3 linked regions of the Homo sapiens genome follow. The protein of the gene in region 1 purifies or fractionates together with the protein of each later gene. This does not show direct contact. Each region holds a gene or a part of one and is shown in the gene's direction. Other genes may lie near its edges.

What was found.
Region 2: the proteins of COLEC12 (region 1) and ARHGAP26 purify together in Homo sapiens (affinity purification with mass spectrometry; one large-scale study listed by BioGRID and IntAct). This does not show direct contact.
Region 3: the proteins of COLEC12 (region 1) and P4HA2 purify together in Homo sapiens (co-immunoprecipitation; one large-scale study listed by IntAct). This does not show direct contact.

What each region holds. Positions count from the first base shown.
Region 1 is NC_000018.10:319,325-322,711, reverse strand, and holds part of COLEC12 (collectin-12), read left to right. Parts: intron 1-904; coding exon 905-1,050; intron 1,051-2,647; coding exon 2,648-2,667; 3' UTR 2,668-3,387. UniProt on the Homo sapiens protein: Scavenger receptor that displays several functions associated with host defense. Promotes binding and phagocytosis of Gram-positive, Gram-negative bacteria and yeast.
Region 2 is NC_000005.10:142,902,851-142,906,505, forward strand, and holds part of ARHGAP26 (rho GTPase-activating protein 26), read left to right. Parts: intron 1-689; coding exon 690-819; intron 820-3,655. UniProt on the Homo sapiens protein: GTPase-activating protein for RHOA and CDC42. Facilitates mitochondrial quality control by promoting Parkin-mediated recruitment of autophagosomes to damaged mitochondria.
Region 3 is NC_000005.10:132,214,262-132,217,916, reverse strand, and holds part of P4HA2 (prolyl 4-hydroxylase subunit alpha-2 isoform 2 precursor), read left to right. Parts: exon of another isoform or gene 1-68; coding exon 69-165; intron 166-568; coding exon 569-720; intron 721-3,655. UniProt on the Homo sapiens protein: Catalyzes the post-translational formation of 4-hydroxyproline in -Xaa-Pro-Gly- sequences in collagens and other proteins.

The sequences.
Region 1 (3,387 bases):
GCAGATGTTCTTCCAGACCCTCCACATGAGGCAGGCTTGTCCTCTCAGGCAGCAGCCACAAGCTTCTGTGCATGAATCTGCTTCTTAGACAAGATTGAACCTTCAAGGGGTGAGTCTGGAAGCACACCTGATTTATTCGTGGAAACGTAATCAAGAACTGTTATCCATGGCAAGGTGCTGTTCTGAGCAGCAGCATCCAAGTTAAGAAGCCCCATGTGAACTCATCCTAAAGAAAACTTGTTTTTAAGAATCTCTCTCCCAAAAAAGGGAGTGAAATGTAGGAGTCATTTTCAGTAAGATTAAGTTACTATTTCTTTCTAAAGCAATCAACCTTCTACAACTCACCCAGACAATCATAACCAGTTATTTGTAATTGTAGGTTCTTGTAAATGTATATCAAAAGTCTTTCACTTTCTCTTCCTGGCTCTTGGACTTGTTAGAGGCAAGATATTGAAATGTACAAGGTCCCTCTGGGTTCTCACAAGATCATGTGTGCGTGTGTGTGTGTGTGTGTGTGTATCATGTCCTCATAATGAATAGATATTCACACACATATATACACTCATGCCCAGAAGTCAGCATTCCAGTACACATTAGAAAGTTATTCATCTAACTGTCCCAAAGCAAGATTCGCTCCCTCTGCATTCTGATGAACCAGCCTAGTGAGTTTGGTTCATGGTAGCAAAGATCACAAGCGCGCAGGGAGATGCCGCATTATGCATTACTCTGCAAAACAGCTGCTCCTTTCTCTGAATAAGAGCATGTACTGATTTTTAAACTGCATTTTCATTCCAGGATAAATGACATGCTTCAATTTTGTTTTTTTATATTCTCTGCTGCTCTTGAGTAAAGAAAAGCTCTGCATTACTGTGCAAATAACATTCAATTTCTGTTTTGCTAAAAGAAATTGGAAAGCTGGACAGCCGGATAACTGGGGTCATGGCCATGGGCCAGGAGAAGACTGTGCTGGGTTGATTTATGCTGGGCAGTGGAACGATTTCCAATGTGAAGACGTCAATAACTTCATTTGCGAAAAAGACAGGGAGACAGGTGAGCAGTAGATGGGATTTAAGAGGGAGCTGCCAGCTTATGTCCTATGAAAGGGTGAGGGGTGGTGAGTACAAGGGCCCTGAATGCAGGCACTGCAATTAGGTTTCAGCCCTGGTTATGCCATTTATTAACTGGGCAGGTGATTAACCTCAGGGAAATAGTAATAGCATCTTCTTCACGAGGTTGTGAAGATTTAAATAAGTTAATAAATGTGCCTCACATGTAGGAAGTACTCAACGAATGCTAAACTAACTGACCCACATAAGTATCTTATATTGTGAGTTAATTGTTCTTTAAAATATAGCACCAGCCAGGCACGGTGGCTCACGCCTGTAATCCCAGCACTTTGGGAGGTGGAGGCGGGCAGATCACCTGATGTTGGGAGTTTGAGACCAGTCTGGCCAACACGGAGAAACCCCATCTCTACTAAAAATACAAAATTAGCCGGGCATGGTGGCGCATGCCTGTAATCCCAGCTACTCAGGAGGCTGAGGCAGGAGAATAGCTTGAACCCAGGAGGCAGAGGTTGTGGGGAGCCGAGATCGCACCATTGCACTCCAGCCTGGGAAACAACAGCGAAACTCCATCTCAAAAAAGAAAAGAGATATAGCACCAATGTTAGTTCTTTTCCGTAGACATCCATACACAGCTAATCCAGGTGGCCAAGCGTTCAATTCCACGTGTATCTATTGAGCATCTACTATAGGCCAGATCCTGTGATACATAATAGAGGGAGATGGTCTGTGCTGCTTATCAGCTCATAAGCCAAAGCAGCTTTTGGAGATTTTCTTGACTTCAAAGGCTATGTATCTAAAGCTTCATTTAACACACGACCCTCTTTGGAATGTGGCATCTTAGTTTTCTTCACCAGAATGAGATTAAAAGTTTGTGATAGGGGACAGAGGAAATGGGGAATGAATGCTAATGGGTATGGGGTTTCTTTTTGGGGTGATGGAAATGTTCTAAAATTAGATTAGATTGGTTCTAAATTGCATAACTTTGTGACTATACCAAAGACCACTGAATTATATGCTTTAAATGGGTGAATTATACAATTTGTCAATTATATTTCAATAAAGCTGTTCATATAAAAACAAAAACCTCAAATATATTTTGGTCAAACTATTTTTGGAAGTAACTGGGGCATAAATTATCCGTATTGCCATTCAACAGACAGTTACTGAGCACCTTTGATGTGTCAGGCATTGGTCCAAGTGCTAGGGACCTTAAGACACATAGGAACTCACAGCTGGGTCAGTTGAGGGGGAAAAACACAGATATCTAAACAAGGGATTATAATTGATGGTGACAAGTAACTCAGATTTGTCTTTTGTATGCTTTGTTTGGCCATTTGGGATTTGAGTAGGGACCAGGCTTTCCCAGAATAGGCTTTTCAAAATGAAACTTGGCTTTTCAAAATGAAACTTATCTTTTCATCCAAATAAGATCTTCTAGACATTTCTTTGAAAATATAAGCATTGTTGAATGATGTATTTTAGACACTGTCCTATAAAAATACACGTTCCCTTTTTTTGAATTGCACATTAACTTTATTATTTAAGAAAAACTAATGCCCATTCTTATTTCTCTCTTTTAGTACTGTCATCTGCATTATAACGGACTGTGATGGGATCACATGAGCAAATTTTCAGCTCTCAAAGGCAAAGGACACTCCTTTCTAATTGCATCACCTTCTCATCAGATTGAAAAAAAAAAAGCACTGAAAACCAATTACTGAAAAAAAATTGACAGCTAGTGTTTTTTACCATCCGTCATTACCCAAAGACTTGGGAACTAAAATGTTCCCCAGGGTGATATGCTGATTTTCATTGTGCACATGGACTGAATCACATAGATTCTCCTCCGTCAGTAACCGTGCGATTATACAAATTATGTCTTCCAAAGTATGGAACACTCCAATCAGAAAAAGGTTATCATTGGTCGTTGAGTTATGGGAAGAACTTAAGCATATACTGTGTAAACAGTGCCATACATTTCTAAAATCCCAAGTGTAGGAAAAATATGCAGACATACAGATATATAGGCCAACTATTAGTAATAATATGAAATATACTTAAAGAGCTTTTAAAACTTTGTATTTTTGTACAAAATATTTGTCTTTTACAATTTTTTTCCTTTTTTTTTTTTTGTCATTTTACCGACATAATACATGGAGCCAAAGAAAACAATAATGGTACTAATAAAAACTCCTAGGGTTTCCTGTCAGATTTAATTCTACCCAGTGGCAAAGAATTTTTTCAATTGTGGCTTTAAAAAAATAATTAAATATACATGTGTATATATATATATATATATATATTTTTTTTTTTTTTTTTT
Region 2 (3,655 bases), on another chromosome or scaffold:
CAGTGGGCTTACTGGAGGTGGGGGCAATGCTGGTGAAAACACCTGTGACAGAGTGAGGGCACCTGGACTCGCAGAGGGGGAAATAGAGCTGTGATGCAGATGCAGCAGAGGTCTCAGTGCAGGGGAGGCTCTGGAGCTGGGATGATCCTTCAAAGTCGCCCTGAATACAAGCAAGGGGGCCAGGCTTTCAACCCCCTTCTGCCTTTCCTCTAGCCTTGTCTAGTCATTGGGTGCAGGCTGACCTTGAGTGAAGGAACTCCCCTTTTAAGGAGGGACTCATCTGTGAGCCATCAGCAAGCAACATTCATGGCAGCTGGAGAAATGAACGCCTAGGTCCTTAAGTCATACAGGCCCCTAGAGCATCTGAATCAGAATCACCTGGGAGGCTTATCGTAAAACACACTTTTTGGCATCCAGAGGTGCTGAATTGATCTGTAGGAGTGAGGGCTGGGCATTTGCATTTTCTATAAGATCCCTAGGTGATTTTGATAGTCACTAGAGTTTGAGAGTCATTCTGGTATAGGACTTTAAGGCCAAAGTATACTTGTCATAAGGGAGTATTTGGCCAGTTCCTGGAAGGTTGAATGTCCTTTATCTCATTTTAGATCTAAGGATTCTATTAGGTTGATCTGGATTGTTAAAACAGATACTTTGTTTCTTTGATTTGAATAAAATTATTTTCATCCTAGACAAGAAATCGCTTTGAAGGCACTAGATCAGAAGTGGAATCACTGATGAAAAAGATGAAGGAGAATCCCCTTGAGCACAAGACCATCAGTCCCTACACCATGGAGGGATACCTCTACGTGCAGGAGAAACGTGAGTGCTTTGACTAGCAACAGCTTGGGATGTACTCAGGCCTCTTACCTAGAAGGTGGAGGATGTATTCAGCAGTGCCTACCTTACTGTAGATACATGCTTGGATAACAAGAACAATTTTATAGTTCACCTTTCCAAAGAGAAAGATGATGTCCACAGAATCTTGTCTACCTTTGTTTTTCTTTATGAATGGGAATTCCTTTGGGAACCTGCAATTCTTTAAGGCTCTGTGGTTGCTCTTCTCTCTCTAATGTTACTCTACTCTTGGGGTTCCTGTACCCCTAGTCCAGCTTTATGTACCATACCCTGAGCATAGCAGCCTTGGAAAGGTCTTACATGCTAGGCCCCTGTTATCTATCAGCAGTGTATCCTTTGGTAGACTTAATACTTGGTGATTCTGTTTTCATTTGACATTGTTTCAGCAAGGCCCAAACAATCATGACTTAGGCCTTTTTCCTCTTCTCCTCAACTCATTTCATTCCAACACTTGAATTTTATGAAAAGTAGGAACAAAGGCTCACTTCAAGAGCCAAGAAGAAGGCTGCATGCGGTGGCTCACGTCTGTAATCCCAGCACTTTTGGAGGCTGAGGTCGGTGGATTGCTTGAGCTCAGGAGTTCAAGACCAGCCTGGGCAACATAGTGAAACCCTGTCTCTACAAAAATACAAAAAGTAGCCAGGTGTGGTGGTGTGCACCTGTGGGCCCAGCTACTTGGGAGGCTGAGGTGGGAGGATTGCTTACCGGAGTGAGCCTGTTGAGGTTTATAAGAGCTCAGGAGGTGGAGGCTGCAGTGAGCTGAGATTGCCACCACTGTACTCCAGCCTGGGTGACAGAGCAAGACCCTGTCTCTTAAAAGAAAAAAAAAAAAGAGCCAAGAATACTCATTGTTCTGCCAGTGATGTCTAGGAAAGGAATGCCAGGTGCTGCTAACATGGACATTTTAGTGATGACTCACAAGTTCATGCCTTATGGCTGGGGAAAGGCTCTGTGATGGGGCCGTGCCGTTTAGGATAGCACATTCAGACTTAATTCGTGTATGCAATGCTAGGAACGAAAGAAAGTGAATGTTTTTTTCTTTAGTGGGTAATTCTTCTCCTAGTCCTTTGGTAGAGAACATTGGTCTTTTCAGATTTTTGCAGGTTTTGTGTTCTTTCATGTCCTGCTCTTCATGTAGAGTTAGGCAGATGTCTTCACTCCTAATAGCTTTCCGATGGGATAGAATAGAAATACTTGGTTTCACTAATTATTCTATTTAGTAATTACTCAAAAATTTGTTTGGACTTAAGTTTCCTGGTAACTGGGGCAGTAGTGGTGTTGGAGTATTGGCTGTGATGAGGATTACATTCCTTATTCTTACAGAGATGAGCCTGTTGAGGTTTATAAGAAATGTAGCTACTTCAGCTGTGTGTTTTGTATATGCCTGAATACAAAGTGATCCCCTCTTTGCCCAGTGAGAAGATCCCTGCAAAAGGTTTTAGGTCTACTTGAAAATATAAATTTTTAGGACTCTAAAAATATAGTTCAAAGTCCACCTATAATACTTAATTTGTTAATATATCATTCACTTACATATATAAAATCAATGTTGTTTTTTTGCACTCTCATGTCACACACTTTTATTCAGACACTTCACATGCTCTTTCAACATTAGTGTGTTGATTATCATGAGGACACTTTTTTGTTCCCTAACACAGTCCAGAGCACATGATGGGGATACAGCACTTTTTTTTTAATTTTAAATTTTTTGTAACTTGTTATTTTGAAATAATTTCAGACATACAGAAAAGTCGCAACAATGGTGTAAGGAACAACCATAAACCCTTTACCCAGTGCATCAATTTTTAACATTTAGCCACAATGATATCATTCCTTCTCTCTCTGTGTGGGTGTGTGAGTATTCACGTGAGTACAACTTGCATACACACACATACACACTTTTTTCTGAGTCATTTGAGAATATGGTTGCATATACCATGCTTCTTCAGTAGTGAGTATTTTCTAAGAATAAAAGATATTCTTTTTATGTAAACACATCTGTTAGGTTGGTGCAAGAGTAATTATGGTTTTTGCCATTAAAAGTAATAGCTAAAATCGCAATTGAACTCTTGCCATTAAAAGTAATGGCTAAAATCGCAATTGAACTCTTGCACCAACCTAATATCAAATTTAACATTGGTGCAATATTTAATCTGAACTACAGTCCGTATTCCAGTTTTGCCAGTTGTATCAATAATGGCCTTCTAAAGCATTTTGTTGTTCTCCAGTACAGAACCTCATACTGCATTTAGTTGTCATGACTTTAGTCTCCTTTAATCTGGAACAGTTCTCCAGCTTTTCTTTGTCTTTCATGACATTGACATTTTTGAACAACACAGTCCAGTTCCTTTATACAGTTTTCTTCAGCATGGGTTTATCTGGTGTTTCTTCATGATTAGATTTGGATTATGCATCTCTGGTCAAATCCTACATAAGAGTTCTTCTCTGGGGCCACATCTGGACACATGTGGTGTCGACCTGCCCCTCAGTGGTGATGTAAATTTTGATCACCCAGTCAAGGTATTGTCTGGTTTCTCCACTATACAGTCACTATTTTCCCCTTGTAACTAATTAGCAATCTGAAGGTAACACCTTAAGATCATGTAAATATCCTTCTCCTTATCACACTTTACCTCCATAGATTTAGCATCCATTGACAATCCTTGCCTGAGCTGATCTTTACTATGATGGTTGCAAAATGGTGACTTCTCAGTTCCACCAACCCCTCCACATTTAATAGTTGCCATTCAGTGTACTTATGTAAGGAAGAGTCCTGCTCCTCTTTCTTCCTCCCTCTCTC
Region 3 (3,655 bases), on another chromosome or scaffold:
GCCCCAAGGAAGGAGGCTGGACATCCCTCATCTGTTTCTCACTGGTGTCTTTCTTCTCTCCCTTGCAGGGCACATGACTGACCTGATTTATGCAGAGAAAGAGCTGGTGCAGTCTCTGAAAGAGTACATCCTTGTGGAGGAAGCCAAGCTTTCCAAGATTAAGAGGTGTCCTAAGTCCCCAACCATCCTTAGTTGGCCTTCCTTCCCTTCTGCCCCTCAAGGAACAAGGAAGCCATCCAGGGTGCCTATAAGAGGAAACCTTTGAGAGGGTGATGTGGGGCTGGCCTGGTTACTTCATGCCAGTGCTTGAGAGGAGCTAAGTACATGGGCTAAGGAGTCACTGTTTATTTTCTATTTAAGACCTTTTCCCTTACATTGGGGGTCCCAGCTGTTATCTAGATTAAGGGGCTAGAAGTATCTGTGGGGAGTTACTGTATTCATTTTTCATTGCCTCTTGATGAAAAGGGCCCCAGAACCTGGCACCAGGGAATTCTCACTAGGAAAATTGTCACAGGTCAAGACCTATGTGGGTGGACGCATTAGTCTTCCTTTTCCTCTGGTTCCACAGCTGGGCCAACAAAATGGAAGCCTTGACTAGCAAGTCAGCTGCTGATGCTGAGGGCTACCTGGCTCACCCTGTGAATGCCTACAAACTGGTGAAGCGGCTAAACACAGACTGGCCTGCGCTGGAGGACCTTGTCCTGCAGGACTCAGCTGCAGGTGAGGGACGGTGAGCAGGTGCTTGAGTGAGCCCATATGTTTGTGTGCTCATGCCTGGGTTGTTGTGTCTGAGCCTGTCTTGGGTCTGGGTGTTGGTGGGCAAGTACATTGTGGAAACAGGACCCTGCTGGTCTCATGGCTCTCTCCCTTCTCTGTGGGGACCTGGAAGTTGGCTGGCCTTGGTTTTTAACATGTAATGATGTTCAGTTCTTTTTTTAGCGTCTTTTTTTTAGTGTCTGTCTTTTCTTATTTTTTGCTAATGACATTTTTCCAATTATACTTTAGTGATACATGTTTATAGAAAAGTCGGAAAACACAAAAACAAGAGAATTATAATTCTTAATCCAGTTGCCCAGTGGTGAGCATTATTAAAATTGTAGTTTTTCTACCTATGCATATACATTTAAAAAATGGAACTATACATACATACCAGGGCATGCAAACTCAGTTGCTTGGAGGGACAATGAATTTACAAGTGTCAAGTGGGCTGGATGGTGGGGCCAGGGCAAGTTGGGGAGCATAGGTCTGATCTAAATTCATTCCTATTCATATGTTTTACAAACAAAGCATATCTGTTGGTAGATTTGTGACAGAAGAAAAAATTCTGTGAATTTCTCAGCTTCTTTATATGCCATTCAATGTTCTTCTGCAACATGATTTTAATGGCTGGATGGTGATTACCTGTCAGATGGTGATAATCTGTCATACTGATAATACTGTCAAATGGGTCAAGTCATTGGATATGGGATTTTTTCTGAATTATCAGCACCTTTTTACATATTTCTTGGTGTATACTTCTGATTACTTTTTTAGGGTAAGTTCCTAGAAGTGATATTACCGATGAGAGTGTGAACTTTTTAAAAGCTTTAAACTATACTTGGTGCTTTTATTGTGATAATACTTTTTATGCCCTAATACTTTTCTGTCAATAAGAAGAGATGGTACGGTGGGCCTGGAGGTGGGCTCTCCTAACTCCTAGCCCTGGGTTTAGTCCCCTGGACTCACTGACTTTTTTTTTTTTTTTTTTTTTTTTTGAGACTGAGTCTCACTCTGTCACCAGGCTGGAGTGTAGTGGCGGGATCTCGGCTCACTGCAACCTCTGCCTCCGGGTTCAAGCAATTCTTCTGCCTCAGCCTCCTGACTAGCTGGGACTATAGGCACATGCCACCATGCCCAGCTAATTTTTTTTTGGTATTTTTAGTAGAGACAGGGTTTCACCATGTTGGCTAGGATGTTCTTGATCTCTTGACCTCGTGATCCACCCATCTCCACCTCCCAAAGTGCTGGGATTACAGGTGTGAGCCACCATGCCCGCTGCCTTTTTTTTTTTTTTTTTTTTTTTTTTTAAAGGGACAGGGTCTCACTATATTAGCCTAGACTGGAGTGCAGTGGCTATTCACAGGTGCGATTGTAGCACACTGCAACCTTGGACTCCTGGCCTCACGTGATCCTCCTGCCTCAGCCTCCTGAGTAGCTGGGACTATAGGCACAGTGCCATTGTACCCAGCTCTTCACTGCCTCTTTTCCCTGAGCTGTGAGTGCTGATTAACTTCAGACTAGCTGTCTCTCTGGCTGAGACATTTTAGCCCATGTGGCCAGACTGGGTTGGGCCTGGGGGCAGGGTGGCCTCTGGAGAGGGATTGGTGAGCTCAGCCAGGCTGGAGCTGTGCCCAGTGAGCTCACTGCCTCCAGAAACCACGGCTGCCTTTCCCAGACTCCCGCCTCTCCGCCTGGGCCTGCAGCTCGGGACAGGCTGTTCTGCCTGCACGGCAGGAGACTAAGCCTACCCAGATGACCTCCTCTCTCCAATCTTGTTCTCCACACCCTACACTCCCACCATCATCTGGTTCCTTTGGAAAACCTTATGATTACCTGGAAGGAGATAGGGCAGGCCCAGAGAATAATTGGTTGTTTTCATCTCTGACTTTGAGTTCTTGCCCCTGAAACGAGCAGGGCATGCTGACAGTGTGGCTTTTCCTGGCAGCATGTTCCCCTACTCCCACCCCACCAGATTCTAAACTCTTTAGAGTCCCTGACCATGTAGCTATGAAGACAAGGAAGGCAGGGTTACAGCTTCTTGGTCCCTGTCCCCAGTTATGGCTGAAGTGGATGTTTAGGTCTGAAGTCATAGGTGGCAGTGGATACAGCTACTCTTGGGAAGAGGTTGGGGAAGGAATGGCCTTGTTGTTCCCCTCTCACTTCTCAGCTTAGAGGCAGAATTGAAGGCCCTAAGTCAGCCTGGGAAGGCTTGGCTCCCACCTGGGATTGTAGGAGGTACACATCTTACTTTACAGCTAGGGCTTGGAGTCCCAGAAAAGCCTCCTTGGAGTACTTCTGTGGTCAAAAGCTCTCCCACGCTTCAGGCTGTGGTCTTGAGCACCATAACTGGAGAGCCCATGCCCTGAACTCATTGAAGGTCTGAGTGGTGGGAGTACAGAGGAGAACAGGCCCACCGTGGTCTCTTAGGGGACGGACCTTGCTGGGTTGGTGCAACCCCACCTTGGTCCTTGGCCTGTCTAGGTGGTCCTTCAGCTGTCAACCTAGGGGGAGGGGGATGACTTCCAGGACTTTCATCATCACCTTTCTGGATGATAAGTGCCAGTGGTCAGTAATGAGTGGCCAGCTCGGCTTCATTAGTTAACTGTCATTGTCCCTTGGACTCCTCAACTTGAAATGTGTGCTGGAAGTCTGTGTTTACCTGACTAGCCCAATTACCCTGGATCAAGGTTTTCCATGGGATTTATTTTCCACTGAGTGGTTGACAGTTCTTCCTGAGTCCTCTCCCGTGCTCTTCTCAGTTACCCTCTCTATCCTCTGTTTCTTCTGTCTCCACCAGCTCTGACTGAATGATTTGGAGCCAAGACTTCTGGACTCCTAAATATTAACCAATATGGGGGGCTGCTTCTACTTAGTTCCAAAGAGCAACACAGGCAGT